Linked DNA regions of Homo sapiens: region 2 is linked to region 1. A link means that fine-mapping ties the variant in region 1 to the expression of a gene that starts in the linked region. Tissue or cell type: thyroid. Region 1 holds a variant in brackets; the other region holds the start of a gene. All regions are shown on one strand. Distances are between the middles of the regions.

The links. PIP is the estimated chance that this variant, and not a neighbour inherited with it, causes the effect.
Region 2: it holds the start of TPSG1, and the variant in region 1 is fine-mapped to the expression of TPSG1 in thyroid (GTEx, PIP above 0.99).

What each region holds. Positions count from the first base shown.
Region 1 is chr16:1,184,472-1,192,471 of GRCh38, reverse strand. The region is part of intron 2 of CACNA1H (calcium voltage-gated channel subunit alpha1 H); the gene reads right to left. Among named protein-coding and RNA genes, the nearest start is that of CACNA1H, 35 kb to the right of the region's middle. The variant A/C (reference allele first, on the strand shown) is at 3,597.
Region 2 is chr16:1,220,928-1,228,927 of GRCh38, reverse strand. TPSG1 (tryptase gamma 1) reads left to right here and starts at 3,660. Exons shown (of 6, transcript NM_012467.4): 1 at 3,660-3,721; 2 at 4,300-4,326; 3 at 5,334-5,505; 4 at 6,011-6,276; 5 at 6,587-6,732; 6 at 6,832-7,277. The coding sequence starts at 3,676. The coding sequence ends at 7,140. CACNA1H (calcium voltage-gated channel subunit alpha1 H) reads right to left here. Exons shown (of 35, transcript NM_021098.3): 35 at 7,160-8,000. The coding sequence ends at 7,934. TPSB2 (tryptase beta 2) reads left to right here. Exons shown (of 6, transcript NM_024164.6): 5 at 1-28; 6 at 114-592. The coding sequence ends at 278. It overlaps LOC124903621, which reads right to left and starts at 3,677. Exons shown (of 2, transcript XM_047434997.1): 1 at 3,367-3,677; 2 at 1,688-2,474. The coding sequence starts at 3,677. The coding sequence ends at 1,688. RefSeq lists a silencer at 4,622-4,808.

The sequences.
Region 1 (8,000 bases):
GGGCCAGCACCCCTGACCAGCCATCTCTAAGACTGTCCAGCCAGCAGAGTGGAGTGGATGGTGTCAGAGCCCAGGGCCCATCAGTGCCAGTCACCATGAAAGCTGCCCACGGCAGAGGGGCTGGCAGGGGTGGGTGGCACCCAGTGCCTAGCAACTCCTCAAAGACAGCTGACTAGGGGTCCCCAGGCCAGGGTCCTACCTGGACACCTTTGCCCCCTCTGCCATGCCACTGAGACCCACCCCAAGCCTTTGTGACTGGCAGCGAGGGAAGCCAGGAGGGGGCCTGGGTGCCCCTCCCCGACCTCTCGGACCGTCTGGTTTAGTGGGGGATGGGGTGCTGTCTTTTCCAAGCAGGGGTGTGGCTCCAGTGAGCCCCTCCCATCCAGGTGCATCCCCCTCCGCCAAAATCACACACACAGCAGAAGACCATAGAGGGGCAAGGTTGGGCCTGCAGGCACGCCAGCTGCAGACGGCCTCCCGAGCTAAGCCTGGCGACAATGGAACCCCAAATCTCCCGGACCTGCGGTGCTGCACAGGTGACGGCTCGCAGAGACCCCGAGTGTGCCTGAGGTCACACAGCCAGGCCAGCCTGCTGGGTCACCAAAACCCTGAGTGTGCCTGAGGCCACACAACCAGGCCAGCCTGCTGGGTCACCGAAACCCCGAGTGTGCCTGAGGCCACACAGCCAGGCCAGCCTGCTGGGTCAGAGACCCCGAGTGTGCCTGAGGCCACACAGCCAGGCCAGCCTACTGGGTCAGAGACCCCGAGTGTGCCTGAGGCCACACAGCCAGGCCAGCCTGCTGGGTCACCAAAACCCTGAGTGTGCCTGAGGCCACACAACCAGGCCAGCCTGCTGGGTCACCGAAACCCCGAGTGTGCCTGAGGCCACACAGCCAGGCCAGCCTGCTGGGTCAGAGACCCCGAGTGTGCCTGAGGCCACACAGCCAGGCCAGCCTACTGGGTCAGAGACCCCAAGTGTGCCTGAGGCCACACAGCCAGGCCAGCCTGCTGGGTCACCAAAACCCTGAGTGTGCCTGAGGCCACACAGCCAGGCCAGCCTGCTGGGTCACCGAAACCCCGAGTGTGCCTGAGGCCACACAGCCAGGCCAGCCTGCTGGGTCAGAGACCCCGAGTGTGCCGGAGGCCACACAGCCAGGCCAGCCTGCTGAGTAAGAGAGACCCCGAGTGTGCCTGAGGCCACACAGCCAGGCCAGCCTGCTGGGTCAGAGACCCCGAGTGTGCCTGAGGCCACACAGCCAGGCCAGCCTGCTGAGTAAGAGAGACCCCGAGTGTGCCTGAGGCCACACAGCCAGGCCAGCCTGCTGAGTCAGAGAGACCCCGAGTGTGCCTGAGGCCACACAGCCAGGCCAGCCTGCTGAGTCAGAGAGACCCCGAGTGTGCCTGAGGCCACACAGCCAGGCCAGCCTGCTGGGTCAGAGACCCCGAGTGTGCCTGAGGCCACACAGCCAGGGCAGCCTGCTGGGTCACCGAAACCCCGAGTGTGCCTGAGGCCACACAACCAGGCCAGCATGCTGGGTCAGCGAAACCCCGAGTGTGCCTGAGGCCACACAGCCAGGCCAGCCTGCTGGGTCAGAGAGACCCCGAGTGTGCCTGAGGCCACACAGCCAGGCCAGCCTGACGGGTCCCAGCTCTTGGGTCTGCAGGGCCCCTACCCATCGTAGATCCTCTGCCTCCCCTTCCCCCAGCACCCACCCAAAATTAGCCCCACAATCCCAGAGAGCTCCTCCAATGGCAAGGACCCCACCCCTGTGCCTGTGGGGCAGCTCTGGAGGGGACGGTGGTATAGCAGGGTCTGGGGGGCCCCAAGGAGGCCTCTCACGACAGAGGACGTGACAGGCAGGCGTATTGCGCGCCTCCCAACCGGGTCACACCCCAGCCACCAGCCCTCCCTGCCCTGGAGAGGGACTGCCAGATGTACCAGGTCCCAGTGCCCCCCTGGGGCTCTGCCTAGAGAGGGGAGCAGTCAGCCGAGGTCCCACATCCCGCACAGGCCAGCAGGGGCTCGGGCAGCTCTGGGCTGAGCAGGCTGGCCCTCATGTGTCACACTTCTGTGGGCAGCTGAGGACAGGCAGTGTCTGCCGGCTGTGTCGCACGGAGCCTGGTGACTTCTGGAGGCTTAATCATACAGATGGATTTTCTGGGTTTTAATTAAAAATTCCTTTAGATTTCAAATCAACTTCTATAAATTAGAATCAATTTCCACTGCGGGTCGGAGAAGCAGGCCAACGTAGCCGGGAACAGCCCTGGGAGGGGGCCTGCTGGCTGCAGGGCGGCAGAACGGTCAGGGAACCCAGCCAGGGAAGGGCCGGGCAGTGGCGCAGTGAGGTGGTCTTGGCTACGGGGTCTCCCTCAGGCAGGGAGCCTCCACCAGACCCTGAGGCCCAACCAGCAGCAATGCACCCACTCACCCTCCCTCCTTCATCTCCCTGGACCAAGCCCCAGGACCTCAGTGATTCTCCTCTTTTCTGACAGACCAAGGTTGTGGGGACCACATTGTCCTTCTCCAGCCCCTGGAGTCTGGCCTGGATGACATGTTCCCCAGGCAGCCCCCACTGGACTGGGCTCACGAGCCAGGGGCTCGTAACGATGAAAACCCCCCAGAGAGAGGCCTGAACAGGGGAACAGGGCTGAAGACCCCCTCGGTGGTGGGGCCCTGTCTGTTGAAATACTCCTCAGGCACAGTACCCATCCTGTCCCTCAGCCCCACACTCTATAATCAGTGCTCTCAGGCTGGGCCCGGTGGTTCACACCCATAATCCCAGCACTTTGGGAGGCTGAGGCAGGAGGATCATTTGGAACCCAGGAGTCTGAGACCAGCCTGGGCAACACAGTGAGACCCCATTGCTACAAAATATTTAACAAATATTTAACAAAAAAATTAAATTTTGGGGTGCGGTGGCAGCTACTCGGGGAGGCTGAAGTGGGAGGATCGCTTGACCCCAGGAGGTGGAAGCTACAGTGAGCCACGATCGTGCCACTGCACTCCAGGCTGGGTGACGGAGCAAGACCCCATATCAAAAAAAAAAAAAAAAAAAAAAAAAAAAAAAAAAAAAGGACACTCTTCAGGGCACCTGCCAGGTCCAGCACAGCCTGGCCACCTCCCCTTCCTCACATCTCCAAGCCTGTGCACTTCTGAGGGGCTGGGCAGGTGCTAAGCCCCCTTCCTACTCCTGAAGCCCTGCCAGGGGCTGGGCCTCCCCAGCTGGCACCCATGAAGAAAACCAGTCCCGCCCAGGACGCTTCAGGGACACCAGCTCCTCAGTCTCCGGGAGGAGAACAGCTTTTCTCACCCCTACAGGCTTCCTGTTGCACACCGCCACTTCCCTCGGGACCCTGGAACAAAGGCAGCCCCCCAGCCTCCTTTCTGCGGCAGTAAGCGCTCCCCTTCCCACATGGGCACCGCCTGTGGCCATGGTGGCTCACACCAAGGTCCACAGAAGCCCCTCAGCTCTCAGGACCTGGGGGGGCCCTCCAAGGGGCCCAGCTCCAGTGCACCGCAGATGCCAGCCCCTGGCGGGCCAGGAGGTGTGGACGCAGGGCGGGCAGTGCTGCAGCGGCTGCTGTCCATGGTGCTG[A/C]ATCAGCAGCCTCGCCTGGGCCTGTCCTGGATGTACCAGGGCTGGGAGGGCCGGGGTTAGGTGTGGGGGGACACATCCAGGAGGGGGCGAGGAAGCGGCCTCCTGGCCGGAAACACAGAGCTTCAGTGGAGCTGCTCCACTGACCCCCGTTTTCTCATCTGGGGGTAGTCGAGGAGGAAAAAGACTCCCAAACTGCTCTTCCCAGCTTGAAAGCGCATAGCTCTGAAGGCGCCGTTTTCTCCCGGCCCCTGGGCGCGGGCGTGGGCAGCCCCAGAGCCACTGACTGTTGTGTGGGGGGCAGCAAGGCCTGCATTCCCGCGGCTGGGTGAGGGGGAGTGTCTGCGAGTGGCGGGAACCCTGGCAGCTGCTATCTCTGCGCCGAAGATGCTGGAGACCTGGGATTCTTGGGGCCAGGAGCCAGTCTCAGGGCGGCTCAGCCAGTGTCGGGGCTGCCAGACCCCCAAACAGTGCCGACTGAGCCCTGAGGTGCTGTGGGACCCCTCTCCCCAGAGCCAGCGGTCTCCAGGGTCCTGGGTAGGGACAGGGGTTCCTCAGAAGCCCGTGTGCTGTGGGACCAGCGTGGCCCAAAGGGTGGTCCTGGACAACCCCAACCCGAAACATCAGCTAACATCCCAGGTAACATCAGCTCCCAGGACCGCCCAGACCCGCTGGCTCACGTATCCTGGGGCCAGGGCCTCCCCGACCCTGCCCCGTGACTAATCCTCAGGCCAGGGCCATGGGGCAAGAGCCTGACCCCAATTCTACCTCCACCTGTGCCTCCCCCTTTCTAAGCCTCAGCTTCCCCATCTGTACAAAAGGGCTATTTCATCTTTCTGGCGCTGACAGGTTTTATGCAGACCTTCCTGCAAAACAAGCCCCTCCATCTACTCTCCTGACTGACACGGCTCGGCCTGGCTCCTGCTGGCCCTGGAGGACACGTTCTCACCACACCAAGACCTCCACGTTTGCCGAAGGAAGGTCAGGACAGATGTTTCTACAGAGGGACGGAGGCGGGGCTGTGTGCCCCTCCTCAAGAGATAGTTAAGGCATCAAAGCCACAGGCCAGCCTCAGCTCCTCAGACCACCAGGGAGGGGACTGTAGCAGCGCTAGCCCAGCGAAGGGATGGACGTCTCCAGGTGCGGCTGCTGCCTGGCTCCTCCTCTATGGTCAGAGTGGCCCCCAAGCAGGGCTGTGGCCTCCAGGGATCCCAGCAGGGCTCCCTGCTCGGCTGCATCCTGACATCAGTGCCGGGGTGGCAGAGCTCTGCAGCTGGGAGGATCGGGAGGCTGGGCCGTTCCTGCCCCACCCGCTGTCCCCTAGAGCAATCTGCTCAGCCAGCTGAGCCCCATTAGGCCAAATCTGCAACAGCTGGGCACAAGCGGCCTGAGCCAGGGGCAGGGGTGTGGGCGGGAAAGGCACCCACAGCAGGAAGGAGAAGCCCAGAGCAAGGTGGGCCACAGCCCCCCACTCAGGACCCCATGCCTTGCAGGGCACAGACTGCAGCTGAGGTCACAGGCAACCAGGACTCTTAGCCACGTGCTCCCCTCTCTGTACCCACCCCTGGCTGGGCAAACCCCTCCCTGCCCTGGGTAGAGGGTGCCAAGGCTGAGGCCGCTCCCTCCCTGTCCGCTCTGCCCACGGCCCCACGCGGCGCTGGCCGCCTCCTCCCCTCCCGGCCCCTCATTCTCAGGAACGCTCAACCTTACTTTTCCAATTTGCTCAAGAAGACGACCTATGTGTATTCACCGGGGAAGCCCATTCCCACAGGCGCTATCAGCCCGCAGTGCGGAGGGGACGGTCGCGGGCTCTGAGGGACTCCATCGCCTCTGCCGCAGAGGAAGCAACAGCTTTGGTCCCACATCAAGAGACCCAGGAGGGGCCGGGCCAGCCGCAGACCCTGGGAGTCAGTGGGTGGTACAGGAGATCCCCGGGAACCAGCCCTGTGTCCGTGTCCACCCCCACTCAGAACCGCGGCAGCTCCAAAGGACCCTCGAGGCCACGGGAGTGGGACGGACCGCCCTGAAGTCTGCCGGTCATGGTGGTGGTCACGGCCCTGAGAACCAGGGCGCACTGCTTGTATACAGAAGAGCTAGAAGGGCAGAATATCTCCACTGCCGTGGCACATTCACCGGCCAGGAAGCATTACGTGGCCACCCGTTGAGGAGGCGGTGGTGCCACGGGCATCGGGACCGAGCCAGGTCCAGGGCACACGGGGCAGGAGGAGCGAGTCACGGAGGACACGTGACCACATTCACGACAGAAGCCACAGTGCAGGCCATCTCGAGGGGCATGTGTGTGGGCACGTGTGCAGAGGTACAGAGACGTTCCCAGGGAATCGCCGGAGGATGAGAACGCCGTGGAGAGGGACAAGACGAGGGCACTCAGGACGTGGGCAGAGTCCACAGTGACCCTTTGACGTTCACCCCACGCCGCGGCATCGTCCGGCTTTCTGCACGGCGAATCCAGGCCCTGCGTGTGCAATTACGAAAGCGAAACGTCCAGGAATCTGGGCCTGTGCGGTCACGGCAGGCTGGACCCCTGCCTTCAGGGCTCCCTGGGCCCAGCTTCTGAACAGCCCCACTGGGACACCTCGAGGGAGCCGCGCATTCTTATTCAAAACACCACTAAGGAAACAGGCTCTCCCCAAGCAGCCCTGGGAGGACCAGCACGGTACACCCTGGCCCTGCACACACCCCGCCTCCGGCCCCTACGCACGCCGACCGTCTAGTCACCCGCCCCGTACACACCCCGCCTCCGGCCCCTACGCACGCCGTCTACTCACCTGCCCCGTACACACCCCGCCTCCGGCCCCTACGCCGTCTACTCACCCGCCCCGTACACACCCCGCCTCCGGCCCCTACGCACGCCGTCTACTCACCTGCCCCGTACACACCCCGCCTCCGGCCCCTACGCACGCCGTCTACTCACCCGCCCCGTACACACCCCGCCTCCGGCCCCTACGCCGTCTACTCACCCGCCCCGTACACACCCCGCCTCCGGCCCCTACGCCGTCTACTCACCCGCCCCGTACACAGCCCCGCCTCCGGCCCCTACGCACGCCGACCGTCTACTCACCCGCCCCATACACACCCCGCCTCCGGCCCCTACGCACGCCGACCGTCTACTCACCTGCCCACGTACACACCCCGCCTCCGGCCCCTACGCACGCCGACCGTCTACTCACCCGCCCCGTACACACCCCGCCTCCGGCCCCTATGCATGCCGACCGTCTACTCGCCCGCCCCCCACGTACCCCGCCTCCGGCCCCTACGCACGCTGACCGTCTACTCACCCGCCATGGACCCCCGTGCCCCACTAGGCTTTCTGAGCATCTCCAGGGTTCCCCAGAAAAGCAGACTCGGCGGGGGGGGGGACTCTGCAGATGGCAGCGTCCATGTGGGAGTCTGGCTGCCGCTGGCAGGACCCACAGACACCGTCCAGGAGTCCAGCTGCCACCCGGGCACGTCTAAGCTCCGGATAACCGGTGGGTGAGGCTATGAACGCCAATCCTGCCTACACCAGGGACAAAGGAAACGGGCACTCACGACAGACGGGCCCACACGTGTCCACAGCGGCACTGACCCCGATGGCCTGTGATGGAAACAGCCCTGGTGTTCACCAACAGACCCGTGAACAAACGGAACGTGGTCTGGTCACACGCTGGAATATTACTCAGCCATGAAAAGGAAGAAAGCTCCACACGCCACAACACAGGTGAACCCGGGAACATGATGCTGGGAAGAACTGGGCACAGAAGGACCACATGTCACACGGAAAGTCCCGCACAGGCAAACCCAGAGACAAAGCGGGGTAGAGACCACCAGGGCTGGGCAGCGAGGGCTGATGGGGATGCGGTTTCCTTCTGGAGTGAGGGAAACATTCCAGAACTAGGCAGAGGTGATGGTTCAACAACACGAAGGTCGCTAACCCGTGCGCTTTAAAATCCGCTGGTCGTCACATAAACAAGTAAAAAAAAAATGGCTAATCCCATGGTACGTGAACCTCACTTCAGTCATCACCACAGCCTGCGTTCCCAGCTTTGCCTTTAAATGGCAGCTTCCCTTCGCTGGAGCCCCGCACCTGTCTGCAGTCGCCACTGAAGGCGCCCTTTGGACCAGGAATTGAGACCCGGCACATGGGCAGGCATAGGTTGGTGGGGGTGTCTCCTCCTCCTGCCACGTGGCCTCCACTCTCGCTGAGCAGAAGGCCCTCACATGCCCCAGACCCACCCGGCCACGTGACAACTCCTGGCACCCTCCAGCCCCTTGAGACCTGCCTTCCACCAGGGGGCCTGGATGCCTACGAGAGGGCAGGGATGCCTGGAGGCTGATGCGGCATCCGTGCCTCCTCCCAGGCTCACAGAGGATGAGGGTGAGGGCCGGGAAACGAGCAGCCCAGGCCGG
Region 2 (8,000 bases), 36 kb before region 1:
CGGGAACACCCGGAGGGACTCATGCCAGGTGGGCCCCGCCTGTCCCCCGCCCCCCGCCCCCCAACCCCCACTCCCAGGCCTGTTCGGCGAGCGCTGACCTCTGACCTTCCCAGGGCGACTCCGGAGGGCCCCTGGTGTGCAAGGTGAATGGCACCTGGCTGCAGGCGGGCGTGGTCAGCTGGGGCGAGGGCTGTGCCCAGCCCAACCGGCCTGGCATCTACACCCGTGTCACCTACTACTTGGACTGGATCCACCACTATGTCCCCAAAAAGCCGTGAGTCAGGCCTGGGGTGTCCACCTGGGTCACTGGAGAGCCAGCCCCTCCTGTTCAAAACACCACTGCTTCCTACCCAGGTGGCGACTGCCCCCCACACCTTCCCTGCCCCGTCCTGAGTGCCCCTTCCTGTCCTAAGCCCCCTGCTCTCTTCTGAGCCCCTTCCCCTGTCCTGAGGACCCTTCCCCATCCTGAGCCCCCTTCCCTGTCCTAAGCCTGACGCCTGCACCGGGCCCTCCGGCCCTCCCCTGCCCAGGCAGCTGGTGGTGGGCGCTAATCCTCCTGAGTGCTGGACCTCATTAAAGTGCATGGAAATCACTGGTGTGCATCGCTGTGTTTCTGGTTGTGGATGTCACTGGGAGAGAAGGGGTCCAGGTGTGCTGAGGACACCTGCCACAGTGTGAGGTCCTAGCCCTCAAGGCACAGCCAGTCACCGTGGGACGGGGCCTCCTGGGCAGCCCTGGTCCCCGAGGCTGGCTTCTCCCCACACGATGCATCCAGCATTCGGGTCACACAGAGCCACTCGGGCAACTCAGTTGATTATAAAGGACAGCCAGGTCCCTGCAACCGGGTCAAGACAGAGAATGGTCACCGGGAGCCCCAGGGCTGCCCATCACGAGCCCCTACCCCACGCTTCCCACGAGCTCTTCTCCCGGCCCCTCCGTCCACTGCTTGTGCTTTGCCTAGTTGTTTGCTTTGAGACGGGATCTCGCTGTGTCATCCAGGCTGAAGTGCAGTGGTGTGATCAGGGCTCACTGCAGCCTTAACTCCTGGGCTCAAGCGATCCTCCCATCTTGGCCTCCCATATAGCTGGGCCACAGGAGTGAGCCACCACGCCCAGTTAATTTTTGTATTTTCAGTAGAGATGGGGTTTCGCCATGTTGGCCAGTCTGGTCTCGAACTCCTGACCTCAAGTGATCCGCCCGCCTCGGCCTCCCAAAGTGCTGGGATGACAGGCGTGAGCCACCGCACCCGGCCTGAGTTTGACATTTTCAAATTCATTTTGAGGTCTTTCTCTACATCAATAGGTGAGCCCTCTGCGTCTGGCGAGTGTTGCATTTTATCCCGGGCTCTTGTTTGCATTTTATATTTGAACATGATTACACTCAGGAATGAAATGCGGGGCTGTTCTGGTTGAAAACAACTCTCTAAAGAAACATTCACTCTTTCCTTCCAACTGTTAGATGCAGAGATGTGCATTTAGTCTCCCGAATCTCTGCAAATGACCTCTGTCCTCACAAGGGGTGGACTCAACTCCCAGTGCCCTCTCCAGCCCCACGTGACCTCTGCCTCTGCAGCCCCTGAAGGCCCATCCCTCGGCTCCTGTTCTGCAGGCCCAGCGTCTTGTTAATGAAGATGGACCTGGAACTCGGGCCCTTCTTCCTCCCTCTGGCCCATCCCACCTTCTAGGGATCACAGAGACAGCACGGGGTGACCCCCAGGGAACACTGAGCCCCTAGAAGCACTTCCACACGCCCACTGGAGGTTTTGCGGGGTGGGAGTCGGAGGGATGAGACCCCGAAGGGAAGCAAGACGGCCCCTCAGGACAGGGCTGCCGGTGTAAGGAAAGGTGGACAGCAGGGGCCGGTCACTGGGTGGAGGGGGAGGGCGGGCTCCAGCCCCAGAGCTTCCCAAATTAGATCTAAGATCCCTGGGAAGCTCAGTGAAGCTCAGCCCAGTGACACTGGCAGATGTGAGCGTCAGCTTCAGCAGGAAGGGTCTCTCAGGACGTGGCAGGCAGGCTGCTGGCCAGGGCTGCAGCCACCTGCGTTTTGACTGGGACGGGGGCACCTGCTCCAAGGTCACCCACGTGGCTGCCGGCAGGAGGCCCTGGTTCCCCGTCACAGGGGGGTGTGAGGCGGAGGGCGAGTGGGGGGGACAGGGTTCCCACCGAGGGGACGGCACCCAGGTGGCCAGGCCACCGCAGACAGAAGCAATCCCAGGTCTCCCAGGGTCCTGGACAACAGGAGACCCCACCAAGCTGGGGGCAATCACCAGGGCCAGGCCCCCCTCCCGGTTCCTCAGTTGGCTCTCCTGTCCAATGGTGGGGGTGAACGGCACCATGTCACAGGACTGCTGGGGCTCAGGGGATGGTGCCTGAAGCTTCTTCCTCCCCAGCAGGCCTGCAATCTGGGTCGTGTGGAGCACTCTGCGGGGAGTGGCGTGCTGGGGCACAGGCAGAAAGACGGGGTCCCCAGTGCTGCAGGTGAATTGAGTTGGGACAGGTGAGGGCCCTGAAGTCCCCACCTGTGGGGACCTGGGGACAGCCCTAGAGGTCAGGACTAGAGGACCTGGTTCCATGAAGACCCTGCCCCTCAGGCTCCCTCCCCACTGGGTGACATCGCCCTGTTAGGGGCACCCTGGGCCGGGGACTCGTGGCTCAGACCCCGCTCCCTTGTGTGGGGTGGGACTGTCCTGCCTCCCCTGAGGCGCCCCCTCCAGGTGTGCGGCTGCCGTGAGGGAGGAGGGTGCCCGGCCGTGGGTGCACTGCTGGCCCCGCATGCTGGTGTTGTCCTTATTGGTCACCAGGAAAAACACTGAACCTCCAGTTCTGAGCCTTGGCTACCCCACGTGCTGGCGTGCAGGCGGCCACGTCTGTGCCTGGGAGGCCACATCCTGGTGGGTGGTCAGGCAACTCCCCCCAACCCGTGGCTGAGTTTCCCCACATCAAAGAGGGGATCCCTGACCTAGAAGGTCTCAGCTGGACCCTCCAGCCTGGCCTGTGATTTGGATCTGGGGAGGGCGGCAGGAAAGTCCCGGGCGCTGCCCAGGGCCCCTAATCAGCTGAGTCATCAGGCTGGGGCAGCCAGGACGGTTAGGAAGGGCCAACCCAGGCTGGGCCGTGAAGTGGTGCCCATCTGATCTGCCGCACGAGCACAGGACCTGCTGCCGGACGTGGGGACAGGGACTTCTCAAAGAGTGGTTGTCACGAGGGCCTGAGCTGTCTCCAAAGGGCTGCTGGGCCTTGAGTTGGGACCCTCCTGAAGAACCCCCAGGACTGGGCTCCCAGAGGATGAAGGAGAGGGGGTGGCGTGCCCCGAGGGAACCAGGGAGTAATTTTTGGAGGGGGCGGCACTCAGAGGAACACTCACCCCTCCCTCAGCCCTGGCCCCGGAGCAGAGACAAGGTGAGAAGTACTTTTGCCTTCTGTCCTTCCCCGCTTTCCCTTGACGGAGCCGGCCACTTGGTGCCAGGGCTGTGGCGTCCACACAGGGATAAATGGAGGTGACGACCCTTCTCTGAGGTGCAGAAGGAACAGGTGGGGCCGTCTGTGGAGCTCCGGCCTCCTCCTCCGTCCTCCCGCCCTGCCTGACAGCAGGTGTGTGGCCACCCCTATCCCCCACGCCCAGCAGGTCCAAGGGTCAGGCTGGCCCTCCTTCTCCCTACAGTGGGCAGACACCATGGCCCTTGGGGCCTGTGGCCTCCTGCTGCTCCTGGCTGTGCCCGGTGGGTGACCTGGCCTGGGTGTGGGGATGGGGGGGCATCTGCTTCCTGCCTGGACCCCTGATGGGGGTGAAACTGGGGGCTGGTCTGAGACGGAGAAACATGCTGAGTCCCCACCCTGTGGGGCCCCGTGTCTCCTCTGAAGAGACTGCACCCCTGGCTGGAGGCCCAGCTGTCCGTGCTGGGGAGAGGCAGGAGGGATGTGCGGGTGGGAGTTGGGGGTGCAGGAGTTGGCAGGGCGGGTGGTAGTTGGGGGTGCGGGTGGGAGTTGGGGGTGCCAGGAGTCCCAGGCCCTAGAACACTGGTGATTTCTTTCCTGAGCAGGACCTGGAGGGCGGGGAGGAGGCCCAGGCCTGAGGCCAAGCTCCCGGCCTCCAGCTGCCGTTTATGGCCTGTGGCTTGTCCCACCCAGCCCTGGGCCAGTGAGACAGCAGTTGACCCAGCCTCACCAGGCCGGGCCCCTCTGCTCAGGACCAGGCCCCACCCCAGTGCCGCCCTGAGGCCTGGCAGGGGCCTCTGGAGCCCGCACACCCCTCTCCTTGGCAGCCCCCTCCATCCTGGGCCCTTCGTCTTTCCCACAGGTGTGTCCCTCAGGACTTTGCAGCCAGGTACGTCTCTGACAGGTGTGGGGTGTGGGGGAGGGTGCAGGCAAGGCCTGGCAGGAGGGCCTCGGTGACCCTCTCCTTCCCTGGGGTCCCAATGGGGGCCCGGGGAGGTCATAGTTTGTCGCCGTGGTTTCTGCTCGCATCTCTCGGTTGAGTGGGGCTGGTCGGGGTGTGCTGCAGGGCTGTCTCCCCCACCACCACTGTAGTCAGTCTGTACCTTGGGAGATGCTCTGAGGCCATGAAACAACCTGGCCCTCCTCGAACTTTCTCCCCACAGCGTCCCCACCGTGGCCCTGGAACCAGCTGGGGGCTTTGCCGTGTGGGAGAGCCGGTGCCCCACCCCACACCCGCTGCCTATCTATAAACATCTCTGTCTGTCTACATCCCAGCTTCCCTTCCATTCAGCCCAGTGGCCACACTCCATCACCAGCACAATTATCCAGCTCAGGCAGACCCAGGTGTGGCCAGTGGGTCTCCAGCTGACTTCCTCTTAATTTCTTCTTAACTTACTGAGGTGAAGTTTACAGAAGATAAAGTTACATTATCAAGCGTCCAATTCAGAGGCCCCGAGCACCTTGGACAGTGCTGTCTGCCCCCCGCCCCCCGAATTTTATCCAGCTTCGAATATCTCCACCACCCCTGAAGGAAAACCGGGGCCCACTAGGCAGCCACCCCCAGCACCCCGGGCCTTCTCGGGGGCTCCACCGTTCTGAGCCCCTTTCTAGCCGCCTAGGGGCCCTCTGCAGCCTTTCCACCGCCTCCGGGAGCCCTGGTTAGTTTGTGGAGCATGGTGCTTAGAAAGGACGACCTGAGCCCCAGGCGCGCTCACTGCTCCTGAGACGTCATTTCTGCTGCACCCACGATGCTTCTGGGGAGAGTCTGGCAGACGAGAGAGCTGAAGAGCAAAGTCCCCAAGAAGGCAGGGAGGTGTGGTCAGGGAAGGCTTCATGGAGGAAGTGCAGTGGGTTTCTTGGGATCCCCACCAGGCACCCCTTCCTCCTTCGACTTAGGGTGTGGCCGGCCGCAGGTTTCGGATGCAGGCGGCCGGATCGTGGGGGGTCACGCTGCCCCGGCCGGCGCATGGCCATGGCAGGCCAGCCTCCGCCTGCGGAGGGTGCACGTGTGCGGCGGGTCACTGCTCAGCCCCCAGTGGGTGCTCACAGCTGCCCACTGCTTCTCCGGGTGAGTGTCCGGGTGGGCAGGGGCAGTCTCAATGTCCAGGCCCCAGTGGGGCATGCGCCAGCGCAGAGGCCTCCACTTGGTCTTGACTCACTCCGAGGCTTGGGAACTCTGAGCCTACTTCCTTCCAATGGAAAGGGAGGAGCTGGTTGCCCACCTTCTGTGAGGTTCTGCAGCTCTTTGCTCACCTCTAGGGATGGACAGCTCCCTCCCTCCTTCCCTCCCCTCGGTCTCTTCACGTGGAGCTGAGCTTGCAATCTGCCTCCTGACCAGCCCCTGCTGGTGTCGGGCATGCTGCTGGCTTTTCCAGGGGCTGGCAGGAACCCCAAGGTGCTGCCGTGGTCCTTGGGCCCTGCAGGGTGAGGCCACTGCCCAGGCTTTCTGCGTCCCAAGCCTAGGAGGGAAGAGCTGGGCTTCGGATGCCTGCAAGGGTAGGGTCTGGGCGGGGCCGACACTGACCTCCAGCCTCCGCAGCTGGCCCCTCTCACCCAGCCACCTTCCCTCCCAGGTCCCTGAACTCATCCGACTACCAGGTGCACCTGGGGGAACTGGAGATCACTCTGTCTCCCCACTTCTCCACCGTGAGGCAGATCATCCTGCACTCCAGCCCCTCAGGACAGCCGGGGACCAGCGGGGACATCGCCCTGGTGGAGCTCAGTGTCCCCGTGACCCTCTCCAGCCGGATCCTGCCCGTCTGCCTCCCGGAGGCCTCAGATGACTTCTGCCCTGGGATCCGGTGCTGGGTGACCGGCTGGGGCTATACGCGGGAGGGAGGTGAGGAGCCCCCGTGGGGATGCTGGGATGGAGGAAGGCAAGGGCGGCAGGAAGAGAGCTGGCTTGAGGGATGCTGATGCTACCACCTGCTCCTGGTGGCTTCCACACCCAGCCAAGGCCGCCCCTATCGGCTGTCCCTTTTCAAAGCCTGTCGTGTGGATCCAAAGCAGCAGCCAAACGTCAGATCACAACCCACGTGCCGTGACGAGGGTCGTGGTGGCATGGGACTTGTGTCTGGCAAGGTCTCCCATCCCCCCAGTGCAGGGCCTGGTGCCCCAACCTTCTCTGAAGCCTGTTCCCCCCACCCCAGAGCCTCTGCCACCCCCGTACAGCCTGCGGGAGGTGAAAGTCTCCGTGGTGGACACAGAGACCTGCCGCCGGGACTATCCCGGCCCCGGGGGCAGCATCCTTCAGCCCGACATGCTGTGTGCCCGGGGCCCCGGGGATGCCTGCCAGGTGAGCCTGCCAGGCCGTGACAGAGGATGGGGGCGGCTGAAGCCCAGGGAGGGGCTCCCCATCTTCTCGGCTCCCAATGCTCGCCTTCTCTGTCCTCAGGACGACTCCGGGGGGCCTCTGGTCTGCCAGGTGAACGGTGCCTGGGTGCAGGCTGGCACTGTGAGCTGGGGTGAGGGCTGCGGCCGCCCCAACAGGCCGGGAGTCTACACTCGTGTCCCTGCCTACGTGAACTGGATCCGCCGCCACATCACAGCATCAGGGGGCTCAGAGTCTGGGTACCCCAGGCTCCCCCTCCTGGCTGGCTTCTTCCTCCCCGGCCTCTTCCTTCTGCTAGTCTCCTGTGTCCTGCTGGCCAAGTGCCTGCTGCACCCATCTGCGGATGGTACTCCCTTCCCCGCCCCTGACTGATGGCAGGAATCCAAGTGCATTTCTTAAATAAGTTACTATTTATTCCGCTCCGCCCCCTCCCTCTCCCTTGAGAAGCTGAGTCTTCTGCATCAGATTATTGCAACATTTAACCTGAATTTAAAAGCACACGAAACAAAGGTGTCAATGGGAATCTCGCGGCCAACGCCCCCAGATGTAGGGGAGGCCTGATTCGCATCGGGGCCGGGCGCGTTACTCCATGGGGTCGGCCCCTTAGTGAGGTGTCACCTCTCCCAGAGTCACAGGACGCTTCTGGGAAGGCCCGAGCGGAACGGAAAGGGTGGTGGCTGGAAGGGGAGGGTGGTGAGGGCGTGACAGGCGGACAAGAACTCAGACTGTGAGTGAAGGTGACATTGGGCCGCGGTGGCTGCAACCTGCCGCCGGCAAGGGCACAGGGCCCCCAGCGAGTGTCCTGTAACAACGCGGGGCCTGAAAGGACGCAACCTGGTACCTTCCCCTCTCTGGCGGGTGCCCGGTCTTCGTCCCACAGACGCGGCTTCTCTCCTGACGGGAGGCTGACCCAGTTGCCCGCACAGCCTCGGCTGGTAGCAAAACTCGGAGAAACCCGAACCAGAACGGACGGAGGCTCGTGGGGCCCGGCAGCTACTCCTGCTTCGCTGGGCAGAGAACCAGGGCCTGGGCCGTCATCCTCCCCGGGCCTTTCTGCTCACGACGGGACCCAAGTCAGGGTCCATGCAGGGTTCTGCCTGGGCCTCCACCCCAGCGGGGCCCCCAGACCCCAGGGCCAAAGCCGTGGGCGGCACCAAGCCCCGAGCTACACGGGGTCATCTGCACCACCCCCTGGGGCAGGGGTGGCTGAGGGGGACCCTGGTTTCTCCAGA